7 separate regions of the Homo sapiens genome follow, and all the other regions are linked to region 3. The links come from fine-mapping of genetic effects on gene expression. A gene starts in region 3. Each other region holds a variant in brackets. All regions are shown on one strand. Distances are from middle to middle.

Region 1 (4,592 bases), 270 kb after region 3:
GATATTCTGTTGTTTTATTACAGATCAAACTAAAGTTGGAAAAATAGACAACAGCAAAGGTACTAGGGAAGATTTAGCTTCTTCTGAGTTCGCAAAAGGAAATGGCTTATTAGTGACAGAGAAAACAAAAGAATTAACCTGCTTGGGAACTTGAAAACTCTGATGTTTCCAAAATATGTGGTTCCCCAGGATAAAAACTCACAGCTAATTTTATTTTCTAAATTGGAAGGGGGGGTGGGTGGGGACTATTTTGAGATGTGAAACTGTCCAATCCTTTCTGCTCTGTGTGCGTTTCCCCATGATGCAGATATGAAGAGACCACAATTCACAGGATGTCCCAATAGGTACTAAAAAAAGATTTACAAAATCACAGCTTGAGAAAGAGCCTCATGTTGGGCTGATTGAAGGAAAAACCCCAGAAACACTGCACAGAGATTCCTGGCATCTAATAGAGTAGAGAAACATCAGTCGATTGTTTTTCTTAATTGAAGGTCACTTTGGGACTTCGATGAAAATTTTTTTTCACCTGTTAGCTGTCTACCTGGCTAAGGACATTTCTAGAGGACAACCTATATTTTTCTTATAGAAGAATATATTCTTAAGTCATCTGGTTTTGTTAATTTCAAATATTAAAACCTAGTTTCTCAAAGATTTAAAAGGATTCAAGTAAAACCTTTAAAAGTAATTAGTAAAATGCTAAGCTATACAAGTATAGCTATGTGGAAACAAAGGAATATCAATCCATAAGTTAATTTTAAATTCAGTTGGCTGAAATATTATATATTCTAAAGTAAATCTAGTTTATATCATTTTCAAACCATATTTTTCCACCAAAATTGTAATTATTTTTTATTTTTTTTCTTTTTAGCCTTGAAACCAATAAGACCGTTTGATTTCTAGTCTTGTATTAATTTGGAGACCTGGGTATATTATTTTCTTTCAACACTCCACTTGCCAATGCCTGTCTTCCTTAAAGCTCTGAGGATTTATTTACTGTGGACCACTTCCAGTTCACATGCCTCACTTTCATGGGACTTAATATATTTCTTCTAATTTTCAAACTCCATCAACTCAATTTAACTTATTTTTCACTAACTCAGAGATAGATTAAGTATTGTGATGGTTAGAAAGAGGCACATAATAGTTACTATTTTCAAAAATACATATGTATTACTAGGGATCAAATTAGAAAAAAAAATACAACCCAAAACAAAAACACAACCAATTTCTTAAACTGTTTTTAAAAATTGCATAATACATAATAATGGAGAAGGCATGCCCAGCAATGGAAGAAATATATGCGTGAGATATGAAAACAGACCAGAAAAAGACTGGAGTTTCAGCAGTCAAGGGAAGAGTGCATGTGTATACGTGTATTTTTCTGTGTGTGTGTAATTTTAAATACAATTATTTAAATTTTGTAAAATAATCGTTCTATAAAATCACTCAATCCCTTTGATTGTTGAGTTTCTATTATGAGTATATGAAGCTAACATAAACAGCACTTAAATTTTCACCAGAGACAACTATCCATGCAAGACTCTCGGGAGCTGCACACTTGGTACCAGGATGTAATTTTTTTTTTTTAAAGAAAAGGAAGGGGAGCCACATTACTCAAGACATATTCAAGTGAGAGTAGATTGCAATTTCTCTAGTTTAAATGGAAAATCCCCATAATGTTAATATTTACTGGCTTTGGAGTTGTTGAGAAACATGATGTAGCTATGATATTAAAGTTATTAAATATTCAGTTGTTAAAAGGAAGGGAGTCCAAAGACAACATGGTGGCAAATTTTGGCATCAGTAGGGGTTAGAATATACTGATGATTCTGAACCTTGAAGGACAAGGGAAACATAAGTGATCATATACTGCAGGCAAAGGAGATGGAGAAAACAAGAATGATAGAGTTCAAGAACAAGAATTGGTAAAGACAATGATAGTGGCAATGATAGAATTATGAAAGTCCGGAAGGCAAAACATTCTATGGAAGAAATTTGTATTGAAGAAGTAAAATTTGATAGAGACCCTAAGATATGTATAGAATATAAATGAATAAATTGACAGAAACAGATGGGATCAAATTATAGCCTGAAAATGTTGTATGTATCATTTAATCTAATACAAAAATTTATATTTTTTCAGGAGCATGTTTATCACCTAAAGCATGGGTACTTCTAATTTAAA[A/G]TAAGTATCTGATACTGCATGTGTGGGTTTCCTTTAGGTTAGTATTAGTTGATTAATATTTGATTTAAACAGTCTTTGTTCAGCTTAAATAAGATGTAAACTATGAAGTCATGTTTGATTTAGTCATTCAGCAGCAAACACTTATGAATTCCTACCAGGTGCCTGACACAAGCTCTAGGGATGGTTCTGAGAAGCTCTGGCATAGAGCAACCAAAGGAAGATGAGTGCCTCATCAGGCAACAGCATTAAGGAAAATTGGTGAATTGCATTGAGTTTATAAAATAAGAAAAAGTAAATAACGGGACTCGTGATCATGCTCTTAAAATTAATGAAAATTATTATTACTTAGGTAGTGGTGAGAACTTACACATTAAAACAGAGACAGATGATATTGGCATACGCAGTATGATGTTTCTCAAAGCCTGCCTGAGATGAAACCCATATTATCAAAATTTACAACTTCTACATGAAAACAATCTGTAGGTTAGATTTTTCTCTCTTTGCAGTGATTCCAAAGTATGAAAATAATAGGTGAAAAATCAAGGTGAACTTTACAATGACAGAGTTAACCCTTGCTAAATAATTTGTAATGCAAATAAATCTTTTTATCAAATTCTATATCAATTTAATGTGTGATAGGAGAAAGCATTTTATGAAGTATATTAAGTAAGTTTGATGTTATAATGTATACCTTCCTATAGCAAAACAAATAAATAAATGCTTATAAGCCAGGTGTTTTTTTTTTCTGCTTTTGCTTTTGCTTTATTTGTTTTGTATCGTGGCCTTAATCAAATTTTGCTTATCATTTTGTGTTTTTTATTTTTTTGATTTCCCCTCTTATGAGAATTCATTATTCTTACGGTTATCCTTGTACATTTTAGTACTTGTTTCATCAACTTCAGTAAAATTTACTCCCTTTATAAAACATAAAAAATTTGTGCTCCCCTTTTCACATTGTCATAAACTACATATAGATTTATTAGTTATATTTTTTGTCAAGTTGACTATATATTTTCTTCTGTCACTCTAATTCTCAGTAAGTTTTAGCTTAAGGAGTGTCCCTCATTTTATATAACAACTTTCTCACTTGAAGATGTTTTTAACTGTTTTGATTATTGATTGGTTGGAATCAAATGTATTACGAGACTCACATTGTCCAAGGCCATCTTTTTGGGTGCCTTTGTGTGTGAACATACACTTGACTACATACAAAGTGCTTGGGTAATGCTTCATTTCTACCAGGACCCTAGACTTTCTCCATCGTTTCTTGCATAAGAATATTGACATAAAGAAGTCTGAAGTCAGCATGTTTTGCTCTAATAAGTGACTTCATATTTCTGCCTTGAGGTCCACAGGACTTTTTTCTTTGTCCATAAAGTCTGGTAATGCTGCAAGATCATATTTTAGGATTTTAATTCTGTGGCATTTTTTCCTAGAACACTTACATCTTATCTACTTGTAAATTCAGGTTTTTCTCTATTTCAGGGGAGTTTTCATCTGTCAGATCTTTGAATATTTTTCTGTTTCATTTTATTTCAATTTTCTTTTTCAATTGTACCAATGATGAGCATCTTACATGTCTTTTGTTGTTTTCTCATATCTATTGGCTTTCATAAATGGATGTACCTCAGTTAATAATTTTTTACTAGTTTGTATTTTGATCGTAGAATTTTCACCACATGCCCATATTTTGTAAGCTAATGTTGTTCAATTTTAAGAGTTTATAATTCTAGTTTTAAAGTCTTTTTTACCAAAATATTCTTTAGAAGAGTGTTTGTTTATATGCTATGACTTCCAAGAGAATGGATTCTTTTCAGCTATACTATTTGCTTTTAATTTCTAATTGTAGGACATCATAGTTAAGAGGTGTGGCTTTGGTGGATCATTGATACTGTCTTTGTGTCTTAAGCTACAGTTAATATTTTAAAATATTCTTCTTTATGATATGTGTAGACAATTGTGTTTACATCATTGTGTTCTTTAAATCCCCATGTTCCTACTTTGTCAATCTGTCAATTTAAGTTTGTCACTTTTTCCATTTATTTGTCAATATATGTTCAAATTTATCCTTGTATTTCTGACCATTTTTGCTTTATATACTTTATTTAATCAGGCATTATTTTATTTTCTCACATAAAATGCATTTTACCAAGATAGACTACTTCTATGGTAGCACTAGGCATCATAATACATGAATTTCATATTCTCAGTGTCTTAGCACAAAGTTTATTTCTTGATCATATCATAGTTCATTGAGTGTGTTCTCTGTAAGGCAATGAACACCATGGTCATTTAGGGACTCAGGTTTCTCCCATCTTATGGTTCCATCTTCTATTAGTTTCTGAGAGTCCTCTCCATTCAGCTAAAGGAAAAGGAAAGGGGATGAAAGTTGTACAGGAGAACATCA
Region 2 (4,592 bases), 120 kb before region 3:
TGGAAGTTCTGGCCAGGGCAGTTAGGCAAGAGAAGGAAATAAAGGGTACCCAATTAGGAAAAGAGGAAGTCAAATTGTCCCTGTTTGCAGATGACATGATTCTATATCTAGAAAACCCCATTGTCTCAGCCCAAAATCTCCTTAAGCTGATAAGCAACTTCAGCAAAGTCTCAGGATACAAAATCAATGTACAAAAATCACAAGCATTCTTATACACCAACAACAGACAAACAGAGAGCCAAATCATGAGTGAACTCCCATTCACAATTGCTTCAAAGAGAATAAAATACCTAGGAATCCAACTTACAAGGGATGTGAAGGACCTCTTCAAGGAGAACTACAAACCACTGCTCAAGGAAATAAAAGAGGATACAAACAAATGGAAGAACATTCCATGCTCATGGGTAGGAAGAATCAATATCGTGAAAATGGCCATACTGCCCAAGGTAATTTACAGATTCAATGCCATCCCCATCAAGCTACTAATGACTTTCTTCACAGAATTGGAAAAAACTACTTTAAAGTTCATATGGAACCAAAAAAGAGCCTGCATCACCAAGTCAATCCTAAGCCAAAAGAACAAAGCTGGAGGCATCACACTACCTGACTTCAAACTATACTACAAGCCTACAGTAACCAAAACAGCATGGTACTGGTACCAAAACAGAGATATAGATCAATGGAACAGAACAGAGCCCTCATAAATAATGCCGCATACCTACAACTATCTGATCTTTGACAAACCTGAGAAAAACAAGCAATGGGGAAAGGATTCCCTATTTAATAAATGGTGCTGGGAAAACTGGCTAGCCATATGTAGGAAGCTGAAACTGGATCCCTTCCTTACACCTTATACAAAAATCAATTCAAGATGGATTAAAGATTTAAACGTTAGACCTAAAACCATAAAAACCCTAGAAGAAAACCTAGGCATGGCCATTCAGGACATAGGCATGGGCAAGGACTTCATGTGCAAAACACCAAAAGCAATGGCAACCAAAGCCAAAATTGACAAATGGGATCTAATTAAACTAAAGAGCTTCTGCACAGCCAAAGAAACTACCATCAGAGTGAACAGGCAACCTACAAAATGGGAGACAATTTTTGCAACCTACTCATCTGACAAAGGGCTAACATCCAGAATCTACAATGAACTCAAACAAATTTACAAGAAAAAAACAAACAACCCCATCAAAAAGTGGGTGAAGGACATGAACAGACACTTCTCAAAAGAAGACATTTATGCAGCCAAAAAACACATGAAAAAATGCTCATCATCACTGGCCATCAGAGAAATGCAAATCAAAACCACAATGAGATACCATCTCACACCAGTTAGAATGGCGATCATTAAAAAGTCAGGAAACAACAGGTGCTGGAGAGGATGTGGAGAAACAGGAACACTTTTACACTGTTGGTGGGACTGTAAACTAGTTCATCCATTGTGGAAGTCAGTGTGGCGATTCCTCAGGGATCTAGAACTAGAAATACCATTTGACCCAGCCATCCCATTACTGGGTATATACCCAAATGACTATAAATCATGCTGCTATAAAGACACATGCACACGTATGTTTATTGCGGCATTATTCACAATAGCAAAGACTTGGAACCAACCCAAATGTCCAACAATGATAGACTGGATTAAGAAAATGTGGCACATATACACCATGGAATACTATGCAGCCATAAAAAATGATGAGTTCATGTCCTTTGTAGGGACATGGATGAAATTGGAAATCATCATTCTCAGTAAACTATCACAAGAACAAAAAA[C/T]CAAACACCGCATATTCTCACTCATAGGTGGGAATTGAACAATGAGATCACATGGACACAGGAAGGGGAATATCACACTCTGGGGACTGTGGTGGGGTGGGGGGAGTGGGGAGGGATAGCACTGGGAGATATACCTAATGCTAGATGACGAGTTAGTGGGTGCAGCGCACCAGCATGGCACATGTATACATATGTAACTAACCTGCACAATGTGCACATATACCCTAAAACTTAAAGTATAATAAAAAAAAAAAAAAAGAAAATACACTGGTTGTCCCCAAAGCGGAGGGTGTCCCCAAGTTGGAGGTTCTCCAAAATACAAAATGTTTCCTGCGACAAAGGAGAACAGAAGAAAGCAGCTATCTCAGAAGGGGCTCTGGACCAGGCACGATGACTCACGCCTGTAATCCCAGCACTTTGGGAGGCCGAGGCGGGTGGATCACCTGAGGTCAGGAGTTCGAGAGCAGCCTGGCCAGTATGACATAGCTCCATCTCTACTAAAAATACAAAAAGTTAGCTGGGCCTAGTGGTGCATGCCTGTAATCCCAGCTACTCGGGAGGCTGAGGCAGGAGAATGGCTTGAACCCAGGAAATGGAGGTTGCAGTGAGCCAAGATCATGCCACTGCACTCCAGCCTGGATGACATAGCATGACTCCATCTCCAAAAAACAAAAAAAAAAAAAAAGAAAGAAAGAAAAAGGGACTATGGAGTACAAAGGCCCATGTGTCATTTCCCATAATATTTTTCATATTTTTGTTTTATTTTTTACTGTGTATATTTAAGGTCTATAACATGATGTATGGGATACATAGAAGCAGTAAAAGGTCGCTGTAGTGAAGCAGATTAAGATATCCACCTTCATGCAGTTACCCATTTTTTTTCTAGCAAGAACAGGGAAAATCTACTCACTTAGCTTGAATCCCAAATATAATACAATTGTACTACCCATAGTCCTCATGCTGTACATTGGAGTTCTGGACTTGTTCATCCTGCATATCTGCTACTTTGTGTCCTCTGACCTACCTGTCTGCATTTTCTTCCCTCACACCTGTCTTTGGTAACCACTCTTTTGTTCTCTATCTCTGTATATTTGAATTTTTTTTAGATTTCATACATAAGTGAGATCATGCAATTTTTCCATGTCTGGCTTTTTTCTTTCTTTTTTTCTTATTAATTTTTTAGAGACAAAGTCTCACTATGTTGTCCAGGCTGGAGTGTGATGGCTATTCATAGGTGCTATCACAGCACACTGCAGCCTTAAACTCCCAGGCTCAAGTGATCCTCCCACCTCAGCCTCCCACGTAGCTGGGACTACAAGTGTGTACCACCACACCTGGCTCTGGCTTATTTTACTTAGCATAAGGTACTCCAGGCTCATCCATGTTGTGGTAAATGGCAAGACCTTATTATTTTTTAGGGCTAAATAATATTTCTCTCTCTCTCTCCCTGTCTCTCTCTGTTTCTCTGTCTCTTTCTCTGTGTGTGTGTGTGTGTGTGTCCATCATATTTTCTTTTCCACTCATCTGTTGATGGACACTTAGGTTGATCCCAAATCTTCACAATTTTTTGAATATGCTGCAGTGAACAAAGGAGTGCAGATATCTTTACAAGGTGCTGATTTCATTTCCTTTGGGTATATGTCCAGAGAAGGAATTGCTAGGTCTTATGGTAGCTCTATTTTTAATTTCTAGAAATTTGATAGTTTTAAAGAAAAGTTGCATATATGAATGTTATCAGGTCTTGAATTTAAATGAGCAAATAATTTTATTTTCTTTGTTTTTGTCTATCTGAATTTAATTCTATCCTGAACCCACATCTGTTTCTTGAAGGAAATTTGGTCTTGTAACTTCTAGGTAAGCTTAGTGACTTTTGTTGTTTTTCTCAGTAAATTTGGAGTTTAAGTTCTGTTGGTTCAGCATTCTTTTCCTTTCCTCCACAGAATGACATTGCAAAGGTAGATGATATACAGAACACTCAGGCATAGGTAAGGGAGAGGCTTCGGACCCACAGCCATCTCCTGGAGTACATTGAGATGTGCTTGTACCCTTTTGGTCAACTGCTCTCATTACCATTACATTCTCCAAGATGTGTATGAAACTGAAATGGCCTCATGCCTTTTATCCCAACCATCCCAAAGCTCCATTGGAGACTTGGGGTCTGTCAGTCACTTCTATACCTATCCCTGGGGGAGCAGGAATTTCAAAATAGTCTCTTGCGTCTTTAGAGGATATAGTATGAACCTGGGTTTTAAATGGAGGTGCTATCACACACAGGTCCATTCTCCTAACATTCCTACACAAAGATTATGGCACCAATTTGGGGCATGAAGAAATTCTTTACAAACCTTTGGACTGCCCCTTAGGGCTGAGGGAACATGGCTCAGGCCATTTCCATCATCAGATCTTCTCAAACATATGTGGAGTTCCCACTGACCTCTCAACCCTCCCAGCCTCATCCCTTGGATTTTATCTAGTGGTATGGAGTACAACCTGGCTAAGTATTGGGAACCTGAATCAGGTATGAATCTCATCCTTTTCTGAGGCTTCTCCTTCCCCAGCAGGAGCAAATTTGGTTTAATTAATGGGTTAGATCCATTGTTTCTTCAGTTTTCTTTTATATGTGCTGTTTCTGGCATAAATTTTATGCTGGGCTATATGTAACACATGATTTGAGATCAAACATGTCTACTGCAAATCAAAAGTCTTGGCTTTTAGAGAGAATTGTCTCTGCTATAAGTTTCAGAAGTTTGTTTTGGAACTCAAAGCTAAAAATTAGAATTTTTGTTCTATATGCACCGTTTGGTGTTCTCCACTTA
Region 3 (4,592 bases):
AGGAAAGGCATGGCCGGGAGTGGTGGCTCACGCCTGTAATCCCAGCACTTTGGGAGGCCGAGGCGGGCGGCTCATGAGGTCAAGAGATAGAGACCATCCTGGCCAACATGGTGAAACCTCGTCTCTACTAAAAATACATAAATTAGCTGGGCATGGTGGTGCATGCCTGTAATCTCAGCAATTCGGGAAGCTGAGGCAGGAGAATCCCTTGAACCCGGGAGGCAGAGTTTGCAGTGAGCTGAGATCGCGCCACTGCACTCCAGTCTGGCAACAGAGCGAGACTCCGTAAAAACAAGCAAACAAAAACAAGGAAAGGCCTAATTTATTTTCCTTGTCCTAGACTTCTGAGTCTAACTCAGATTTACAAAGGCTTAAATCAAGCAGAATGTACTGAAGTTCTCTGATGCTTCTTAGGAGTTATCAACATTTCCCAGCTCATGCTAATTTATATATCTACAATTCCTTATGATATACAAAATATATACATCTATTTACTTATCGTGTTCCCCAAGATGGATTTTTTTATGCGGATGTTTCATTACATGGATAAATGAACTAAATTTCAGAGAACTTAAGTAACTTGGCCAAGGTTAAGTGAATAGCAGTGTCAGAATTAAGCCCGGAATTCTGCTTTCCTCACTTTTAATATTATGAACTTTCCATTTTCTCTTCGGTGTTAAGGAGAAGCATTCAGTACAAATCTTCAGGACTCTAAACACTTAAAAAGGTCCTTCCTGAAATGAGAACTGACAGTGAATTCTAGGGTCAATCTGAAATGTGATTTTTAGAAAAAGATCCCAGAGAAATTCAGTTAACTGATAGGGACATGCCATCCCTAACTTGGGCCATATCCACCAAATCTATTTTTAAAGATTGACTTTTAGTATGCCAAACATTCTATACCACTGAGCTCTATTACACAGATTTCTAGTCTAATTGGTTTGTATGACAAGAGATTGTGATTTAACTCTCTCATATATTTGGAAGGAAAGCTTTTCCTCTCTTCCTTTTATGATTAAGCTGCAAATCTCACAAAACCAGCCAAGCCTGAAAATCCAGGAGCTTATTCTTGAACTCCATGGCTCAATAAAGATGCACATCCTAGAGTTATTTCTGAGACCCCTTACAAATATGTCTTGGGTTTGTTGAAGTTTGACACAAGAGGGCATTCAGCAGCATGCCAAAATGATATTGTTTGGATCCTTTATTATAATATATATTTTTTTTCTTTTTAAGTCAGACCACACAAAGAATCACTCAGCTAGAGCAAAAGCTCTTCAGCAGGTTTCAGAACTGCTTAGGAAATTGCCAGAGTGGACACATCCGTATGAGAGCCACAGTCACAGCAAATGCCACAGGGTGTGTTCGACGAGCATGATGAACACCTGCCTTTTCCCCAGATGCTCAGATGGCGGCGTGGCTCTGGGCTGTGTTTTCTGAAGTTCTAATGCAACCCTCCCAAGGCCTGATGAACCTGTTAACTGGATCAGGTTTTGGTGGGTCCTTTCATGAATGAGGCAGAGGCACCAGCTCTGTGAATTGGAGGTGGCTTCCTTGCTTCCAAAGTCAATATGCAGAGTGTCCTGATAGCATGGGAGCATCTCAAGCGTAGCCAGCAGAGTAGACGCTTCATTTTTCAGCCCTTGCTAGAAGGCAGAGAAAGAGGAAGTTTCTTCAGTGCTTAGCAGTCTGCTCCTCCCACTGATGAATTTTTAATCACACATTTTCCTCCCTTAAGTTAAAATTGATAAAATCTCTATACATGTGTCTTGTTTGACAATTGATAATAACATTGAAAAATAACAATATTGTTGACTATACAAGGCAATTTCTTCAAATTGAGTAATGATGTGATGTGTGTGGTTAACTGTCTCTACCCAGGAAGTGGTTTTATTTAAAAGTTTTGTGCTCACCCCACCCCCCGCCTTTTTCTTCCCCCAGTACTGAAATTAAGCAGCATCCAACACAGGCCTACTCTTACGACATGTGACTTTACTGTTTTCCGTTTTTGTTGAAAGAGTCATTAACAGTTAGGAGTTGATGGCAGTTTCAATAACAGGTCATTGCCGAGAAAAGGTAAGTTTTAACTTTATATTGTACATGAAATTTAAACTTGAACATGTTCGGCAGAGTTTCCTACATTTTGGTGTGAACATATAAACATTTCTACAAAATATGACGCTTTTACCTGTGATTAAAACATTGGCTGGTTTCCTTTGATGTAGAAAAGAATGTTCTTTTCATATTTGCAGCTGTCAAATTCCAATGTCTTTTACTAAAATGTTATAATAATAAGATGATTTGCTAAGATTTTGTACTAAAATGTTAAAGACAGAATAAGTTATAAAGTTTTAGTTTGAAGTGCATTTAAAAATAACTACTAGAAATAATGTGAGACTTTGCACCTTTAACCAACTGTTTTATAAAAATATGTATTGTTCAACATCCAGATAAGGAAAGAGAAAAGGGTATAACAATGAGAAATAGCTTGAATTTCAGTGTGAAAGATACTCACTTTAAAGCATTGTATTAATGTTAGCACTAAAAACCCTTAAAAAGGTTACTATGTAGCTAATTAAAAAGCAAGGAGCTTTTAAAATGTAAAGGAATACTGTCTATCATGACACTTGAAATTTTTTTTCTAAATTTCATTTAAGATATAGGGTGAAATGAGTGTAAGTTTCTAATTCATAAGCAAACTTTTATATTTAAAAAAGAAGTCACAGCTGATTTCATTGAAGGTTACTCTGAGAGGAGAGGCAAATTAGAGGTATACTTTTGTTATTTATGTAATTATATAATTTTCCTTCTTTGAAATATTCCAAAATAATAAACCTTAGAAATGAAAAGGATTTGTTAGTCCTAAACTGACATGTAATTTTCTTTTATATTGACTTCTTGCTTTTACAGAATGTCTTTGTGTGCTGTAACATATGTGCAGAAAACATCAAAATATTGCTAATCTCAGAGACAAATACCTAAAATAAATCTGACTGTAGATTTTTGAAAGAATTTTAATAACAGCCCAAGATATGATCCATTCTTCCCTAATATTATTTTTATTGTGCTGCTGGATGGGAGAAGTGATGGCCCCCACAACACCTATTTTTTGTGTTATTAAAAAATGGTTACAGGGTTGATAAGTGGCAACAATTTTCTTTTCTTTTATTGTCTTCTATTGAAAGACACACATAAATGTTTTTTGACATGGTCAATTTAGTAGGAAATTATTAGGCATAGTAGTACACTCCATTTTAAGACCTCTTCAATTGTCAATACTGAAGCTAGCTACTTGTTGACTATTAAAATGATCACAGAAAAATAGAGATTAGGACTTGGTGTTCAATACATTTTTTATTGTTAGCATGTAAGAAGACCCTGGTAATATATATTTGCTTTGATATTGTGATTAGATTTTCAATTTGTTGCATTTCCTCACAATGGAAAGCATTATTTAAATCTGTCTTCAATATCGTGGTTCTGAACCTCTGCATCTATAGAAGCTGTATAATTCTGATAATTTTGGTTGATATGTTATTACTTTCTTTCATTTTATTATAAAAGAATATCAAATGAATAAACACATGCAATACTTACACCTTAGCAAGAATGAATATGCAGATAAACATCTGGCATTGAGGAAAAGTCCATGAAAATTTTTTAAATTGTTTAATGCTTTTAAAAAAGAAATTCACTGTAAAAATGAGTGTTTCTTGCAGAAACTGTTAAATTAAAATACACATATTTTATGGAATATGTGTAAAATTAAGAATGAATTGAAGAGAGCTTGATATGAATTTAGAAAGATCAATGAGTAAAGATGATAGGTAAATTAAAATACCTTCAGAATTGTTTGTAAAGAGCAGTAAGGTACAAACCAAATTTTAAGACAGTTAATTGCAAATAAGTTACTATAGAATTCTATTACTTTATATGTTTTAAGTGGATGAGTCAGAAACAAGTTTTGATGAAATGAAAATAATACGGAAGATTTTATTTGGAAAGTCATATTAAAGCTAATTTGCTCAAAGAATGTCGTGCTTTTCCACTTAGGGCCAGCATTCAGTAAGATTCAGAAAGGAGAAACTCTTTCCTTGATATTCCTCCTGTTGCTCCTTTTTATTATTCTCTTCTGGAGCGGCCTGCTCTGCTCCTAATTTAGAGTCCCATAGACTTGGTACCTAGAAAGATAGACCCTTCCATTCACTGGCTCCTTCCATTCAACTGAACTTTTAAAATGTACTCATCCCATTTTCCAGCACTTAGGGAATCTAATAAAAATAATCCACGCTTATAGGAGAAGGCTACAGAGCTTTGACTTCCTAGCCAGGCCTCCCTTTCTCCCCCCAGTGGAATTTTAATATGTTTCCTCAGCAGACAGGGCCCAAAGGATTAGCTAAATGTTGGATCTCAAGTGAGGAGACTGATGCCATGGTAAATGGTTGGGGGAAGACTTTAGAGGGAGAGTGTTTTGTTAACCATTGGTCCTGCCTGTGGCATTTAAACACAGAATTTCTGGAAGTGTCTCATATGAAGGATCCATCCCAGTGATGTATCCATTTCTTTAAGATAGTCCTGAAGAAATAAACACC
Region 4 (4,592 bases), 440 kb after region 3:
AAATAGGAACGTTTTTACACTGTTGGTGGTAGTGTAAACTAGTTCAGCCATTGTGGAAGACAGTGTGGCGATTCCTCAAGGATCTAGAACTAGAAATACCATTTGACCCAGTGATCCCATTACTGGATATATACCCAAAGAATTATAAATCATGTTACTATAAAGACACATGCACACATATGTTTATTGCAGCACTATTCACAATAGCAAAGACTTGGAACCAAGCCAGATGTCCATCATTAGTAGACTGGATTAAGAAAATGTGGCACATATACACCATGGAATACTATGCAGCCATAAAAAAGGATGAATTCATGTCCTTTGCAGGGACATGGATGAAACTGGAAACTATCATTCTGAGCAAACTATCACAAGGACAGAAAATGAAACACCACATGTTCTCACTCATAGGTGGGAATTGAACAATGAGAACACTTGGTCACAGGGTAGGGAACATCACACACCAGGGCCTGTCATAGGATGGGGGGCAGGGGGAGGGATAGCACTGGGAGAAATACCTAATGTAAATGACAGGTTGATGGGTGCAGTGAGCCAGCATGGCACATGTATACTTATGTAACAAGCCTGCACGTTGTGCACATGTACCCTAGAACTTAAAGTATAATAATTTAAACAAAAAAAAAGCCTAAAATATTGGCCTAAATGAAGACTTCAAATGGGGATTTATTCATTCAAAAATATTTCTTGAAAACCTTTTATGAACCAGGATCTCTTCTGGAAAATCAGGCTCTGGTGGATCATCCATTTTGGTGTCAAGAGATACATAATAAATACACAAGATAATTTCAGATGATATCAGAAATTATAATCAAGATCGTGATGTAATAGAGAAGAACAGATGGAGACGGGTGAGGTGGCCCTTGATTAGATGACCTGAGAAGGTCTCTTTGAGGAGGAGACATTTGAATAGACACTTGACCTGATAGGAAGCAGGGAGGCATGGAGAGATGTGGGGGGAGTGCAAAGCAGGGAAACTGGTTCTGGGGAATGAGGGCTTCTGTGAGATCAGGACACACAGAAGGCCAGAGGGATGGGCAAAGCCAGGCCAGGTAGGCCTTGCCAATCAAGATTAGAAGCTTGGCTTTTATTCTAAGCTCAGTGGAATGTCAGTGGGGTGTAGGGCAGCAGTAAGCAGAAAATTAGCTGAACCTATTTATTTATTTGTTTTTAAATTATTCCACTGGCTAAGAGAAGAATGAATTGTAGGGGGAAAGAGTACATACAGGGGACAAATTAGAAGGTTGTTACAGTAGCACAGTCAAGCTATAATAGTGGTGGCTGATTTGTATGAGGGAATACTTCATATTCTATTTGTCTTATTTTCCATATGCCTTTTAAACCATTTCCTTTAAGCAATAAAGTGTAGAGAGAAGAGTGGCCCAGGAGTTAGAAAGCCTAGGTCAATTTTCATGTCACCTCTTAATAATTGTGTTGTCTTGCCCAAGTCATTTAACCTCCCCAGGTCAATTTTATTATCTTTAAAGCAAGAATATATTTTCTTTTAAGATGAGTCAATCCCATGAGATAATGAACCTGTTACAATGGAAATTGCTACACCATATGGAAGTTATATCTAAATGTGTCCCTTACAACCATCCTAATGAAGTAATCTATTGTAATATAATGAAGTATAACATTTTTTAAAGGAAAGAATATTTTATAAAGAAAGGGCTTATCTCAAGTTCTTCTTGGATTATTTAAATGTCACTCAAATTTTCCCTGGAACCTCCCCCCAAACCACAAGAATCACTCCTCATTTTAAATCCTATGTTTACAACTTCAACTACTCAATTTACAATAACCTCATATTGTGTATAATGTTATATATCACTAGTGAAAATCACATGCTTATATCTTATCTACTCAACACACTAAACATTTCTTAAGGGCAGAGTTCATATCTTTTAAACCTGTCTCTCCTACTTTACCCAGAAGAATATTTTGCAGCTGATAGAAGCACTACACATTTTAATTTATTGATTGATTCCATCCAGAGTTGGACCATTTTTTTATTAAAGAAGGTGAGGAATTTGGCACATGCTGGAGATCAGTCTCAAAGTGAACAATTTTTCACTGTGTACTATTGAACTCAGTTCCAAAAACAATAGCAAGAAATACATAAAATGTTAGCATTAGGTATTGGTGATTTTTATTGTCTTCGTTTTTCAAAATACCTTCCCAATTTCCTGCAATTTACACATTATTTCTTTTGAAAACAAATATTGAAGAAAAGAGAAGATATGTCTTGTTTCAAACAGGTCAATCCTTTTTTTTAACAGAATAGAATTTACAGAACATACCAACAGAACCAAGAGAATGTCAGTACTTGAGTTCTCTAAAGCAGGGGTTTCCAGCCCCCCAGCCAGGGGCCAGTACCAGTCCATGGCTTGTTAGGAACCTGGCAGCA[C/T]AGTAGGAGGTGAGTGGCAGGTGAGAGAGCATTACCCCCTGAGCTCCACCTCTTGTCAGATTAGCAGTGGCATTAATTTCTCATAGGAGTACAAACCCTATTGCAAACTGCACATGGGAGGGATCTAGGTTGCATGCTCCTTATGAGAATCTAATGCCTAATGATCTGTCACTGTCTCCCATAACCCCCAAATGGGACTGTTTATTTGCAGGAAAAAAAGCTTGAGGTTCCCATTGATTCTACATTATGGTGAGCATGTAACAATAATAGAAATAAGGTGTACAATAAATGTAATGTGCTTGAATCATCCTGAAACCATACTCTTCCCCTTACAATCTGTGAAAAAATTGTCTTCCACGAAACTGGTCCCTGGTGCCAAAATGGCTGGGGACCACTGCTCTAAAGCACTTGAAATGCTATTACACTAAATCTTTGTAAGAAAGCTACCCACTTTATAGATGAACTAAAGTCTCTATGAATTTGAATGAGTTGCTAAGAGTTGCATTTCTTCATTCAGCTGAGATTTGGAGAAGGCATTATGTGTTTCCTGGTAATTTAGAGAGAAGGTGACATGAAATCCCAGCCACAGTCTCCTAACATCCATGGGATTCTAAAAAGCCCATGGAATAATTCCCTTTAAATAGCAGCAGGTATTGGTGGCATCTGCATTTCTTGCTGTTTCACCATCTCCTCATCCTTTCTACTTCTCCAGATTGTTTGTCTTTTTGTGGTCTCCTCACTCTCTGGCTACATTTTTCCTGAGCAAGTACCCCACTCCCTCTTCTTGTTAGTCTATTACTTTCATGTCTGGCAGCCATAAGGGGTTCACTCACCATTATCTGCTTAGGATGTTGGAATTCAATATCCCATCAGTCCTGGGGGCTGGAGTATGTATGCGTATTATTATTTGATAGGTCCCAGCAGAACAGTCTTTCAGAGCAAGATGCACATCATCAGTGGTTTTGCTGATGGATGAGCTCACCTCCTTGACACAGATCTCATGATTCTTGGCATAAATCTCAACAGGAATTAGCTGCTTCTTCCACTGTGTTCCCATAGCATGTTGTCCCTGTGTTTCAGTACTGGTTTTAGTCTATTTCATATGCCACTTCTCTCCCTTTCATGACTGTTAGATGCTGGAGACTGAGCTATTTTTCAGTTTCCTCTGGATTCCTCCCTATGCCCATCATGTGCCATCTGCATTGTAGGCTTTCAGCAAAGCTGTGCCTGCCAGATCCTCTTATTTCTGGGTGCCAAAATACTCAGCATTACACTTCTACCTCACAAAGATCTACCTGGCTTAAAATCATCACCCACCTGTGTGTGCCTTTGGAGCCTTCATTTCACCCCTGTCCTCACCCCTGACACCTGTAAGACACTGAGTCTTACTGAGCCCACTTTCTCCATAGTCATACTCTATGCACACAGCCATCTTCCCCATTCCTCTCTCCCTCTCCCTTTCCCTTGCCCTGTTCTCAGCGTTATCATCCCCATCTCTCAAGAGTCCACTCAGACTTTCTAAGGTGATCATTTGTTCATCTGAGCACAGTAGGTCATGCTTCCTGCTACTCCTGGGAATATAAGGTAAGAGACGTCATATAATCAGGTAAATAGTGAGGATTTCCAGTCTCTACATAAGGTATTTTCAACAGTAGTGTTGACTCACCTCAAATCACACCACTTAGACAGCTATAAAGCCAGGCTTACCTGGAATTTTCTTTTTCTGACTCATGAAACTCTTGTCTCTGTCATATGTGTATTTTTACTTCTGAATTAATATAGCCATCCTGAATCCTAAATCCACGCGTGATTTCTGAGACCACTACTCTCACTGCTAATCTAGTTATGTAGGAATCCCTCCTAAATAAAAATTTTAAAAGATAAAACATACAACCAAAACACAAAGAGCCATATTGAGAACCATGCAAAGCACTTTAAAAGTGGTAAAAGATACTAGCTAGATAAATTCAAATCTCTAGATTACAAAAATGGAAATTCATAAATTAAAAAAATACCTCTAGATACCTTTATATTTGTTTCTTTATTCCATCTTGTGTGTTTATAGAAGAAACAATATTCAGGTACTTTTCATTTTACTGGGATGAGAAATGGAAATGCTAACTACAGTGCAGCTTCATGACTCAAAAGTCTGTAACTGGTATTA
Region 5 (4,592 bases), 310 kb after region 3:
GACCCAAAAACTTATTGGCAAAAATAATTAAAACTGGGTGTTTTCTTTCAATTTTGATTTCACTATTAAAATAATAATTTAATCTTTAACACTAGCTCTAATTTTAGAAAATGATTCTTTTCTGTATCTTGGTGAGTATGTATAGTTGTAAGCCTTTTTTTTTAGGGCCAGTATGTTTTTTGCAATGTAGGACACAGTTAATATCCATCTATTACTTTGAATTAAGTTCATTCAATATGTATGTATTCATTTTCATTTGAAAGGCATAATGATTGACCCACCCACACAATATCAAATTAGACCATGCATTTGAAATAGTGATTGACATGTTTTATATTTGATGCTTTGTAAAATATATTTTTTCAAGTAGGAAATACCCTGTGTGAAACCCCTCTGATCTCAGTCCTAGATTTGAACACCCAAACTTAGGTTTCTTAAAACTTGCATTCGCTTTTATGTCACCCTTTGGAGATTAAATAATTATATAGAATCAGAGACTCAACAGTATCCTCTTCCTTATTAGTAGTCTAAGCACAAACTTTATTGTCGGTTTTCTGCCTTTGGCTTCCTGTGCCCTTGATGTTCCCATGAGTTTTGCCGCCAAGATTGTAGACAGATAAAGCCAGAATTACTTTTTTAAAAGGCATGTGAACATCATTAGCAGCTAACAGGTGGTGATTTCGTTGTCCAGTTTGTCTATATAACATGGGAAAAATATGTTCTCTCAATGAGTGAATTCAGAAAGTTATGTTTACATATACTTTTCTTTTAAAAAATATGATTCTAACCTGCCAACACTATTAAGAACGAATCAGATATTTTAAGATATCAGTTGAGTCTAACAGACAAGAAGCCAGAAAATTTAATGCAAGGGCCAAATCACTGTGGGAAACTCAGGACACCAGCCTGGGATGAGAGTAGGAGAGCAGCTCTCCAGGGAGGGCTGTTATGGAAAGTGGAGAGTCAATCAAAGAAGATGTGAACATATTTCTCTGAGGAAAGAGAATTGTCTTCCACTGACAGCAAAGAGGGGGAAGGCCCAAATATAATAAATCTTGCATCAGATAACCTTGGCGAGGTTTCTTAACTTTTCTGAGCTTTACTTTCCACATCTATAAAAATGGGTCTAATACTGTCCTTAAAGGATCGTGTGAGAATTTGAAATTAGACATGTAAATACTTAGCTCATAGCAGGCACTCAGTAAGTAGGAGCTCTTATTATTATCCTCCATGTCCCCAAGCAGATAGCACTGAGACAGGGCTTGAGCCTGGTGGTGGTTGATGAAAGACTGGAGCAGGGCATATAAGCTTGCCATCCTACTCCCTGAGTGTATGAAAGGTAGAAAAAGGGTACCAGAATTGGATATGGGAGTCATAGCTGCAAAAAATCTAAGTACGAGCAGCTGGTCTTTCCCCTGGCAACTCCCATGTAAAAGGGGCAGGTAGGGCATTCTTGGGAGCAGCACACCAGGAAACAGTAGAAAGGAGCCAAGAAACACTCTTGATTCTCCTAAACCCAGAAAAGCATGCCATTCAGAAATTCAAGTTGATGGGAAGGATTCAGCATTAGCCATCTCACTATTCCTTTACACAAAGTTCTAGTTTATTCATTCATACACACATTAATTCTTTTTTATGAAGAAATACAACTAAAGGTATACAACTAAAATTCTTGATTTCACTCATCTGTGCTTTCAATTTTTAAAAAATAACTTTTGTATGTAGGTTATGCTTTAGTAGTAATATATCTCATACCTATCAATTGCTAAACTGTAAAATCCATGAGTGTGGAGACCTTGGATAACTTGAAAATAAAACTGACACTTTAGTATTGGAAATAAGCACCCTGAAATGAACATGAGTTAGAAGACTAAAGTCAAAAGGTAAGAGAGCTAAAAGGAAATGGGTTTTCCTTTAGCTGTCTCTTGATTAAGTTATCATAAAAAACAAATGTGTTCTGGGTGAAATCCTAAATGCATATGTGGATTTCCCAAATCTACGTTCTCTTAATGACATGTGCAATAAGGGTATATGTAATATGTTTCTAATAATTAGGGTATATGTATTTAAATGTGCATTTCCCAGTTCCATATCCCCTTAATGATGTGTGCAATAAGACAACAGAAAGAAAAAACTTGAATTGAGAGAGTTACACAATAAAAATTAAAATGCTACGGACTTTTAACTTGTCTTTGTTTAAAAAATTTGCCTGCAAAGTATCATGACCATGCCAAGTGATGAAAACAAGTTTGATAGAGAAAACATTAATTTTTTGTACTAATCTAAATAATTATAATACTGGTCTTCTACAACTATAAGTAGGCTATGTTCTCAAAATCCAATTGTAAATTGGTTGCTTAGACCTGGTATGTTTTCACAAGGAAACCATGTACCAAGCCACAAAAGCACACTTGAACTTTCTGCAGTCACTTACAATGTTGTTTCTAGGGAACAACTCATTCTGAATTTGCTGCACCTCTGGCCCTGAGAGCTAAGACTTCCCAGTAGCATTGCTTTCGATCTAGTTTCCGGTCTAGATCCCCACTTCTGTACCGTCTCCACCAAAGCGATTAGGAGACTCAGAAT[G/A]GCTTTTGCTTTTGCTAGGATTCTGGTGAGCCCTGAAAGTCCCCAGTAGTGGCAGGGAGGGAATTTAAAGCCTCCGAGCCGGAAGAAATAATAGAAAAAGGAGAGAATTGAGGACTGGGTAGGCAGCTTTTGTAGCATTAATGGGAAGTGAGTCCTTAGCAAGACAGATGTTCTTTGTAAAAAGTATGTGTAATGACAGATTAAGTCTGGAATTGTCCCAAATATAAACATTTGATGAATCTAGGTGGTGCATAGGCAAGTGATCATGATCCTATTGTTTCATTTTTTTTTGTATGTTTGAAAAGTTCTCCAGTTAAAAATTGAAGTAAACGCACATACCCACACAAAAGTAGGTATGTCCATGTGCCTAATTCAATAAAAGAATATACATATTTTCTGATTATGACCTGAACCTTTCAAAGAAAGATCAAATTTTCTGAATATAAGTTACATTAAGACCTCTTTACATGAAACATTGATAACTCATTGTTTTCCTATTTTCCTCCAAAACCAATATATTTTTTTCCTGTGACCATTGAGACCTTTCTGGGAACTATGTAATTAAGAAAACTTTTAAGATATTTATTATTATCCAAAATTAAAAAGTCACACGAGTTTCTTGGATAAATATGTAATTATCAATTGTTAAAACACATACTGTGAAGCCTGTTCTGGAGGCTCATATAAATACATATTTTAAAGTTTTTTCTTATTAAGAATTTTGTGTAAAACAGTCTAATCCTGCCAATGTATGAAAATAATAAGATGAACAAACCATCTGCCAAGGAAATGAAAACAGTATTAAAATTGCACAGATAAACCATATCTAGTTCTGAAGAAATGGAAGAGCTCTTTCCTGGAAAAACAAAAAAGTCGTGACATTTTTGTAGAATATCATGGGTTATTATATTATCAAGAGGACAAAGTTTTCTGATTTGGGTGAGAGGGTCACTCACCCTTTTTTTTTTTTCCCCAAAATAACTAGCGCCACTCTGGTACCAGTTTTATTCAAAACCCTCTTGAGAAAAATAAACTATTGAGCTAAAATGTGGAAACAAATCACTTCATATTACTATACTTATAAGACAGACAATATCTAAAGAATAGTTGAGTGTCACTTGTCTTTTCAGTTGTTTTTCACAGGTTGAGAGTTACTTATTTCAAAATAGTTGGTAAAGAAAAAAATTGAAAAATTATAAATGACATTTATGTTGTTAAAGCTGCAAGATGTAAACATCATGAGAGGAAAAGAGTAAAAATTAGACACATTTGATAGTCAAGCATCCACATTAATTTATCAGAATAGTATTATGCATGAAGGTCCCAGGCTTCACTATGGCCCTGTGTGACTCTAGCCATTGTTCTGACATATGTTCCCAAGCAGCAGTACCTACTTTTTCTGGGACCCGTAGATTGCACTTTCTTCAAAACATTCAGTTTTCAATGAATCATTTGATAAGAGGACTTCATTATGAGCTGAGCAAAGAATGTCCTGATTAATCTCTTCTTTCCCATCTAAGGGGCTGATCTCGCCCTCTGACCTGTGGATGTCCATTGTCGTGTATCTCATAGCATCAGCTACTCTGAAAGTCCACCTAACCCTCTCAGTGCTCAAGCACTAGATCACCCTATCTTCCTTCTGACCCTGGCAATAACACCATGAGCATATTTCCCCTTAGATGAACTGCATTTAATCAATTTCTGATTTCATTAGGTCAAATGGCATCTTGCTTTCAATAATAGGGCAAATCCAGAGGGCTCTTTGCTCTAACTCTCAAGCAATATTTTATTGGCATTAATACACTACTGTGATTGTAAACAAAAGAAAAAAAAAGATCTTTGGTATCCTCAGAAAGTGTCCTTTTGTTTATTCCATGACTTTAAAATGGGCGTATATTAATGTTTTCTTATAAAGTTAGGCATATAATCATCATTCATTGTTGTCACAGCAGATTTAAAGAATCTTTGCTAAAGCTGACATTTAAGCATTTAAGGTGTTTGTACAG
Region 6 (4,592 bases), 86 kb after region 3:
TTAAGCAGGGCATGGTATCCCGTCCCCCCAGAAAAGGAGCAGGAATATCTTGAATATGAACTCCCAGGAGTTTAAGCCTCAAGAGGATTACAATTGTCCTATTAATCTTTCCAGTTCTGTTGTAAGCAGAGAAGCTGGCATTTAGAGGAAAGAAGTGTTATTAATTAAAAATGTGTTGAAAAGAATGAATAAGTGTACATCAAGTATTAAAAAGACAATGAAAGGGCCGGGTGCGGTGGCTCATGCCTGTAATCCCAGCACTTTGGGAGGCCGAGGTGGGTGGATCACCTGAGGTCGAGAGTTCAAGACCAGCCTGACCAACATGGAGAAACACTGTCTCTATTAAAAATACAAAATTAGCTGGTCATGGTGGCACATGCCTGTAATCCCAGCTACTCGGGAGGCTGAGGCAGGAGAATCACTTTAACCCAGGAAGCAGAGATTGCGGTGAGCCGAGATTGCGCCATTGCACTCCAGCCCACGCAACAAAAGCAAAACTCCGTCTCAAAAATAAAATAAAATAAAGAAGATGAAGGAAAATAAACACCTGATCTCAGAAGTGAGAATGTGTGCACAGTGGTAGGACATAGATATACTACGTGTAGAAATCTGCATGTAAACATTTAACAAATATGCATGGTGGTAGCAAGTGTAGTAGGTAATAGAACATAGCAGAAGCGTTATTAGCTTCTTCTAATGACCTGGAAGGCAGCCTGACTTTGGAAAATGATATAAGAGAAGATAACTAACTTGCTATTCAGTCCGTCCTCATTTTTCCTGGGACCTCTGTATGATCATTCCTGAAAAGTCTATTGCATTGATCCAAGACCATGGAACTGGCTCAGCCACTGATGACAATGATGTCACATTTATTGAGTCTTAACTTGAGAAATCCAGCCCTTGGCATCAATCTCAAGTATTCTGGGAAAAGTCCTGCAGTGTCTGGGGAAATGTTACTTATGTATTCAAAGAAAGAGAATTCTATGATGTACACCTTAAACCTGTTTATGTTGATTTCTCCCTATAAGAGTATTAGCTTTTTCCTTTCACATTTCCTATCTCTTTTAGAAAAATTTTCATCAATAATTTATCTTTGTGGGTAGCAAATGTCTACCGAGGGATCTTTTGTGAATTTTTGGAAAAAACAATTGGGGCTATATTTTTAGCAGAGAACGCATGCATCAATTTTTATGATGGGTTGATAGGTTTTTGTAGTTTTTTTGGTAGATAAATCCAGGTTTTGGGTAACTGTTAATCAGAAGAAAACTTAAATAAAACAATAAATTTTTTCTACGGTTACACAACAAAATTTCTCAGTATACATTCCTAAAGAAAGGAACCTCCTTTGTGGTGGTAATTGCTATTGAAAACATCTTTCTTCCAAACATTTGTGGATACCAGTGATACACAGAGTTAAACACTAAATTTATTATATGGGTTTTACGAGGTAGAAAAATAAAATTCCTGGCACCAAGAAAAAGGGACAGTATACATAGAATAAAATGTGGAAAAAGCAAATGAATAGATGTATCCAAATACAAAACAAAAAGGCACCAGTGAATACCATGGTTCTCAAAATTATCCAAGAAATCTTCCTTAGATGCTGTAGAGTTGTGGAGAACATGGTGAAGTAAAAGAAACTTTCTGGATATGGAGATAAGTAAAAAACACTTTGCTATCATTTTCATAAGTCATCATTATTATTATCTCTATCATTATTTATTTAGTCAAAAATGTATTCATCAAATGCATTTTAAAACTAAGTCCCGTGCTATGTATTAGGAATAAAACAAGGCAGAAAAACTCTCACCTATATCAGAGCAGACATTTAACCAGTGAGATTTTAGTTATTTGGAACAACTCCTTTACCTCTAAATATCTCTTCCTTTCACTTGTAGTATTGAAGATAAATTTCTTGGCTTGCCCAGTTTACTATAAATATTTAAATAAACATTTAAATAGCCATTCATTTACTTA[T/A]TTGTTCAAACAGTTTTATTATTTTGACTATTGGCACTACCAAAATATTCCAGAAGCTAGGAATCCAGGTGTGAAAGGTACAGTTTTTTGCCTTTGATGGACTCATAGCACATTATTTGCCTGCAGGCACAGATAAATAAAATGACATTTACAACATGATCTGATATGTGCTGTCACAGTGACAATGGCAAACTGAAAATGGAGATTCAGGATGGTGCACCTAAAAGAGATGGCAGAGAAATCATGGAAAGACCCTCTAATAAAAAGACGTGCACATTAAAATTTGGTTTTCTTCTTATTTTTTGAGATGGGGTTCTTGCTATTCTGCCCAGGCTGGTGTCAAACTCCTAGGACCAACAGATTCTCCCACCCCAACCTCCCACACAGCTGTGATTATAGACACTTGCCACCTCACTGGGTTTTACTAATTTAATTTTGAAGTAGATTAAATATACTTAAGACTTTTGTGAGATGAAGACATGGTCATGGTGGACTATTTCAGCTAGGGGGATAACATGGGATGGCACTGAGGGAGTGTGGTCCTCTGATACTAGGCAGCTCAGGGAGAAGGGTGTGGGCAATTCACTAAGAGTGAAAGATGAAGGCTAACGACTTGGGATGGGGCATGTGAGGCAGACACAGGAGGGTAGAAATAGGATGCTAAGAAATTAAAACACCTAGTACAGACTTTGCAGGGAGTCAACCCATCACAATTTGCATTGTGCATTTATTTTGCCAAAACCTCCGCAAACACTTCTGCGGAGTTATAATGACTTGTTGAATTTCCTTTAAGAAACTTGCAGCTCTATTAGAAATGAAAGCCAATACAGTATATGCAAATAGGAAAAGGAAGCAATCCTACATCATGGAAGAAGATAATGAGATACTGCTACTACAGGGTATCTTGGCAATTGACCAAAATATATGAAATGTTGCTATTTTAAATGCCCTTCCATGATTCAACTAGCTCAGTTACCTGGTCCCATTGAAGTCTTCCTTTATCCCGGCTTCGGAAGGTACATGGGGAGGCTTGAAAAGAAGAACTTTTCTAAGGATACTTGGTAAAATAAAGGAAGGCATTCAATTTGTCTTTCTTTTACCATTTGCAATCAATTTTTTAAACAAGTGACTTCAACGCCCAGAAAGAAAAGTCAATAAAGGTGTATCACTATCTAACAAATCATTCACATTCCTCTTCATAGTCTGTCTTTTAGATATTTAACAGCTTGTAATGACTATGATTTTGCAGGCACTTCCCATAAGCTATATATGCATTATTAATAAAGTTCTATGACTGAAAACTTCCGTCACTGCAATGACTCTTGAAAAGCATAGGTTTATTCAAATCAACAATGCATAGTAGTTTGTCACGGTTTTAACATATGCATTCTTCTTGCAGATGGTTGAAAAAGAAGGTTATCTGCAAAAAGCTAAAATTGCAGATGGAGGAAAGAAACTAAGGTAATAAAATTCTTTAATTCACTTTTATATAACTATGCTGGTTCTTCATATGCTAAACTTGTGCCACTGTTATTGTTTGGGATGCAAGTCCCTATGGTACCAGACTAGAACAGTCTCCTCTGCTACTGCTATGATCAACATTATTTTTAATGGAACTACAGTTTTTAAAGAAAGGCACTACATTCTATATTGTCGAACAGAACACATAAATGAGATGCTTTTTGTCCTCCTTGGACTTGAACTCATAAAACACTGAAAATAAATAAGACAATGGATTGTGATTTCTGTGATTGAAAGATTAGAGAATGAATGCATTCATCTGCAATACAGAAAAGTCTCTATACAATACCTTGTGAGAATAATTTCTTGAAGGATGGAAGATTTGAACCACTTTTGTAGCTCAAAATAGAAATTGATAAAATAAAAGTAACATCATATTCAGAGGTGAGAGAAATTTGAAAAGGGAATAAGAACCTTCAGAGAACAATAACAACAAAAATCTTGAAGAAAAAAAGTAAGGTTGATAGGACGGTAAAGAAAGATGATAATTGTGTGGTATATACCGTATGTTTAGAAATAATCACCTCCATTTTAGAATTTTTGCTATTTCTCGTATTGGTTCTGTTACATATTTAGCTTTGTGCTGGGTGATATGCAAGTTACCAAATTTGTAGAAAATGCTCAAGTTGAGAGACAAGGCATTTACTCTTAAATGTATTACTAACAATTAAAATTAATAGGATAAATGTACTAATTAGCTACACAATGGGACACATGTTAGTTGTATAATACAATTCATTACTAGAATGACACTCTGGGTCAACACCAGAGAATAAAGTCTGCTTTTGTTTGATGGTTATAATGAATTAATATATTTATTTAAACAAAGTAAAATTTGGAGGGGGGTGGAGAAATCATCCACAATTTCACTACTTAAAATAGCTATTTCAGTTGTAAATAACAAGCTCTATTTTCTCTCCATATTGTGTCTTATTCTGGGATAGTGAACAAGGCCTTAAATCTTTGCCTGGACTGTTTTTCTGGAGTGGCCCTGCAGCCACCTTCCCTTGAAGAGTTCAGGAGAGAGATGCACAGGAGACAAGATCAAATGCAAGGTTGCTTTAAGAGATGTGGCTAGTCCCTTCCCCAGTGGT
Region 7 (4,592 bases), 310 kb after region 3:
TCAGTCCTCTAAACCCCTGAACTCTGTGTGACAGTAGTTGGGAAATGTTCATCTTCCAGTTGCAAGGAAAAGTCAATAATACAAAGGGAAAATCTTCACAGTTCAGATTGATGGCCAAATACAAAAAGCATGTCCACACCCACTCTAATCAATTTTTTCTCTAAGTTGCCCGTTATGTGTGAAACTAAGAGTATTGCTCTGTTTCTGTAGGGTCGTATCCTTTTCTCACAAGTCTGGGGAGAAAAAGATTCACTGTAATGAAAAATGGACAGTTACACGCTAAATATTGCCAACTACTTAGCAGTCTGAGAGTCAGGAACCTGAATGTTCATTTGATAAATACTCTCCCAGAGAGGTTCAAATATGTAAATGAACTTTTATTTTAATATACTCCTTTTGTGGGGAAATTGGTTTTTTTATTACTTTCCTATAGATCTCTGATAAGAAAGTAGAAATAGTCAAATGTTATTCATTTCAATGAACTTTTGGAAGTCTGCAATTAGTGTTTTTGGTAAATAAACTGTTTTAGAGCTCTCCATAAAAGGAAATCAAATATAGAGATACTATTAGATTTGAAAAAGACAGACAGGAAAGAGGCAAACGTGCAGAATGAATTCTGACACACCCGGGTGCATTTTTCTGCGGGTTCTGACTTAAGTGTGTACTGTCTGCAGTTCTCTGAACTTCCTGGCTTGTTTCTCCTTAAGTTGGAGTAATTCAGCTCTAGCCCTACTCTGACTTAATCGTTCTATTATTAAAACAATAATGTATTTGTTATGACGTGAAAAACAGTTTATAGAGAGCGGTTCAAAATGCTCCCAGTTCCCAGAAAGACAATTACTGGAATACAAGAAAATATTTCATTTTATTAAACTGTGTTTTTTAAAAAAGGATTTTTACATGTAAGAGATCTATCTTACATAGTTTCTTTACCTGTCTATTTCTTTTTCTTTTTTTTTTTTTTGCAGATCACAACAGTATCAGGAAATGAGTTCCTTCTACAGTCAGATATTGACTTCATCATATTGGATTGGTTCCACGCTATCAAAAATGCAATTGACAGATTGGTATGTATTTGTTTTGGCTGTTACCTTTATTAATTAAAATGTAGTCATTTAAATCTTATTGCTCAGGCATATAACACACACACTCATTTAAATAGATCCTATGGACTGAGAGGGATTAAGTTCTTTTAGTTTAAATAGAATCTACTAAAAACCTTTTCAGCAGACAGGATTTGTAGAACTGTCGTTTAATTTCTCTCTTTCAAAAATATAGTGCATTCTTTCTTTTTTTCTGAAATAACATAGACATTCATTTACTGGAGGCTGTAAAAAGCACACAAGCACTTAATAACTACTGATTTTTTTTTCATTTTCAGTTTATGCAGTCCATACTACATACTCCTGTAAATAAATAACATATTTAAGACTCACTGTTATAATACCAATAAATAAATAATAACCCTTTGTACTGATTTTTATTATTCTTCCAGCTAAGCTAGATTGTTCTTCTTATGAAAATTACATATCTAGAACTTCATGAAATTATCCTAAAACATACATTCAGAGTATGTTTTCTAAGAATGAACTTATTTAAAACCACTCATTCCATGCTGAGTCTCTAGAACAAACATTTAATTTTATGACACTAATATTTGCAAAATTTTGGGAAGAAATATTCTTAATACGGAATACAACACAATAGTAAAAGATTTTCTGTGTGATTTTCTTGATACTTAATTGCAAGCTTTCATTATACCATTTTGGGATTAACACTTTAAAAAGTAAAATAACAAATTTACTTTTTCCTGTTATTAGTATATTCCCCTTAAAGGGGTGTGTGTGTGAATGTGTGTGAGTGCACATACATACATACACACAGTTTGTTGCCATTGAGGATGGACTCTGGAACCAGACTGCTAGAGTTTGAATTCTAGTTCTATCATTTGTTACCTGTGTGGCCTTAGGCAAATTACTTGCCTATTTTGGCCTCATTTTCTTAATGAGGAAAATAAGGATAATAATAATACCACCTACTCTATAGAATTGTTGTAATGATTAATTGAACTAATGCATGAATAGTGCTTAGCATTTAGTAAGTACCATCATATACATATATAAACTATTATTAGAGTATTGAGCTTAGCATAGAGGACCTATCCTCAAATAATTACCTTACTTCAAATTTCCCCATAAACAGCAAAATTGAACACAAAATTCTATGGTGAATCCTTTCTTTCTAGTAAAATTATTCAGTCTAATTATTTGCTGTTTCCAGCCAAAGGATTCAAGTTGTCCATCAAGAAACCTGGAATTATTCAAAATCCAAAGATCCTCTAGCACTGAATTGCTAAGTCACTA[C/T]GACAGTGATATAAAAGAACAGAAACCAGAGCACAGAAAATCTTTAAGTGAGTATTTTCTTTGACTTGCTCATTTTAAGTTTGTCTAAATGCAGTGCTTATGAAATATAAATGCATTGAAATGAGATTTAAGCCAAACTCATCATACTCATGGAAGATTCGTAGCCATTTCCTGGCCAGGGATTTGTGCACTGGAGGGCAGTCTGGGCACTTTGCTCACATCATTGTTGGTAATGCCTTTTGAGAAAATAATTGTTCCAAGGTCATGGTCTCTGCTTACAGCAAACCTCTGAATCTCTGAGTAATAGCCATGGTGTTCAGATCAGTGATTGATTTTGAGAGTGGGAAATGTCAAGCATCTCCAACCCTGGTATCCTGACTATTTTATTTGCATACATTAAAGGGTATGAGTGACCACCAGTGTGGTCTAACTTAAGTCAACAGGCTATGCCACTTTCCACACCTTCAGACCACCAGAAACACTTAGAAACGTGCTTTCCAGAGAGGCTGATAGAAAATATGGGATGTGAATTAGATGTTCTCCAAGGTCACACCTAGTTCTAATATTCTAAGAATTAAATTTAGAGTAAAAAGAATGGTCTCACTACTTACACAGTGATCTTGAGTATCTTTCTTAACCATTCCCCAGACTGCTTCTTCCTCAATGAAAAGGGGTTATTAAAATATGCAACACATATCTCACTGAGTTGGTTTGAGTCTCAACCTCCTGAAAGAAAAGGTAGACATCTGGCTGGGCGAGGTAGCTCACGCCTGTAATCCCAGCACTTTGGGAGGCTGAGGTGGGTGGATCACGAGGTCAGGAGCTCGAGATCATCCTGGTCAACATGGCCAAACTCCATCTCTACTAAAACTACAAAAATAAGCTGGGCATGGTGGCACGTGCCTGTAATCCCAGCTACTCAGGAGGTTGAGGCAGGAGAATTGCTTGAACCAGAGAGTCAGAGGTTGCAGTGAGCTGAAATCATACCACAGCATTCCAGCCTGGTTGGCAACAAAGCAAGACTCTGTCTCAGAAAAGGTAGACATCTTTGGAACCAGAGAAAACCTATTTCCCAAAGTCTTAAAAATTATAGTATTTTGGGGGAGTCTTCTACCTGGCTGACCCCAATCTTGCAAATCATCATTTTTTTCCTGCTATTTCCCTCTGACAAAATATCAGTATACTGACATCCTAAACTTTAGAATTTAAAGAGAACTCAGTAAGTTGAGAAGAGCTGCTAATGGAATATATGTGTACATATATACATATATACATACACATACACACGTATGTATGTATGCTAGATGATTATTTGTACGTGTACATATATGTGTGCATTAAGAAATATATGTATATACACATACATGCACACAAAGACTCATACACATATGATAGGGAAGAGAGAAGCTATTTATATGTGATAACATATTTGCCAAAGTTGAATTACTGAAGTCTACAAATCTAGAAATTGCATGAGAATTTAAGAGTAGAAGCACCCTTTTGAAATTAAGTCTTTATGCAAAATCCCATGCCATAATTTTCAACAACTGCTAGACACATTTACTTAGCCAGTTGTGCTAAGTTGGAGTTTAAGATTATCAGTGTTAATGTCTAGAAAATGCATGGTTTATTTGTGGAGAGTTAATGCCATTTCAAAAGACTTTTCCATAATGGTACAGTTTAGAGGTATTTCATTTAAAGAATGTTTTCCTTTCATGCCTGATCATTGTCTTCTTTTACTTCATATGGTTTGAGACATAAGGTAAGATTTCAGAATTGGGATTCAGTTGGGAGTATATATTTAGTGTTAATCATATAGACATTCTGTAGTACATATAAAAGAATATGTGATGCAATGACTAGTAGGTCTGGAATCTTAGATATAATTGCTGGTTCAGAGACCTTAAGATGTTTCTAAAACCTGAGCTATGGAGAAAATAAAGGTTTGCAAAAATGTATTTGAGAAACATTGAGGATAATGAATTCTCTATTAAGTAACAGTCACTTTAAAAGTATTAAGATGCTGCTGAAAAAAAAATCTTAGATAGAACACTCACTACTTCTCTTTAGAATCTATTTTTAATTGGAAAAGACAATTATTTTTCTACTTTGAGCTTAAACTCAATCCTACTTAAAAACAAGGGAGGCCAGGAGTAGTGGCTCATGCCTGTAATCCCAGCACTTTGGGAGGCCAAGGCGGGTGGATCACCTGAGGTCAGGAGTTCAAGA

Which allele goes with the higher level. Alleles are on the strand shown, and positions count from the first base shown. SD is a standard deviation of normalised expression in the study named. Not every link is listed here.
In carriers of allele C in region 4, the expression in whole blood of the gene that starts at base 2,029 in region 3 tends to be higher than with T alone (moderate effect, 0.55 SD a copy in GTEx).
For the expression in aorta of the gene that starts at base 2,029 in region 3, G is the low allele of the variant in region 5 and A is the other (small effect, 0.18 SD a copy in GTEx).

Evidence for each region.
Region 1: its variant is fine-mapped to the expression of ARHGAP15 in whole blood (INTERVAL, PIP above 0.99).
Region 2: its variant is fine-mapped to the expression of ARHGAP15 in whole blood (INTERVAL, PIP 0.97).
Region 4: its variant is fine-mapped to the expression of ARHGAP15 in whole blood (GTEx, PIP above 0.99). The same link has a PIP of 0.9 or more in lymphoblastoid cells.
Region 5: its variant is fine-mapped to the expression of ARHGAP15 in aorta (GTEx, PIP 0.98).
Region 6: its variant is fine-mapped to the expression of ARHGAP15 in whole blood (INTERVAL, PIP 0.94).
Region 7: its variant is fine-mapped to the expression of ARHGAP15 in whole blood (INTERVAL, PIP above 0.99).

Annotation. Positions count from the first base shown.
Region 1 is chr2:143,402,351-143,406,942 of GRCh38, forward strand. All of the region lies in intron 6 of ARHGAP15 (Rho GTPase activating protein 15), which reads left to right. Among named protein-coding and RNA genes, the nearest start is that of ARHGAP15, 280 kb to the left of the region's middle. The variant A/G (reference allele first, on the strand shown) is at 2,186.
Region 2 is chr2:143,010,045-143,014,636 of GRCh38, forward strand. The region is part of intron 10 of KYNU (kynureninase); the gene reads left to right. Among named protein-coding and RNA genes, the nearest start is that of ARHGAP15, 120 kb to the right of the region's middle. The variant C/T (reference allele first, on the strand shown) is at 1,777.
Region 3 is chr2:143,127,391-143,131,982 of GRCh38, forward strand. It overlaps ARHGAP15 (Rho GTPase activating protein 15), which reads left to right and starts at 2,029. Exons shown (of 14, transcript NM_018460.4): 1 at 2,029-2,076.
Region 4 is chr2:143,568,537-143,573,128 of GRCh38, forward strand. All of the region lies in intron 11 of ARHGAP15 (Rho GTPase activating protein 15), which reads left to right. Among named protein-coding and RNA genes, the nearest start is that of ARHGAP15-AS1, 210 kb to the right of the region's middle. The variant C/T (reference allele first, on the strand shown) is at 2,429.
Region 5 is chr2:143,439,888-143,444,479 of GRCh38, forward strand. The region is part of intron 8 of ARHGAP15 (Rho GTPase activating protein 15); the gene reads left to right. Among named protein-coding and RNA genes, the nearest start is that of ARHGAP15, 310 kb to the left of the region's middle. The variant G/A (reference allele first, on the strand shown) is at 2,587.
Region 6 is chr2:143,213,008-143,217,599 of GRCh38, forward strand. It overlaps ARHGAP15 (Rho GTPase activating protein 15), which reads left to right. Exons shown (of 14, transcript NM_018460.4): 4 at 3,377-3,438. Among named protein-coding and RNA genes, the nearest start is that of ARHGAP15, 86 kb to the left of the region's middle. The variant T/A (reference allele first, on the strand shown) is at 1,978.
Region 7 is chr2:143,434,633-143,439,224 of GRCh38, forward strand. It overlaps ARHGAP15 (Rho GTPase activating protein 15), which reads left to right. Exons shown (of 14, transcript NM_018460.4): 7 at 969-1,067; 8 at 2,281-2,410. Among named protein-coding and RNA genes, the nearest start is that of ARHGAP15, 310 kb to the left of the region's middle. The variant C/T (reference allele first, on the strand shown) is at 2,364.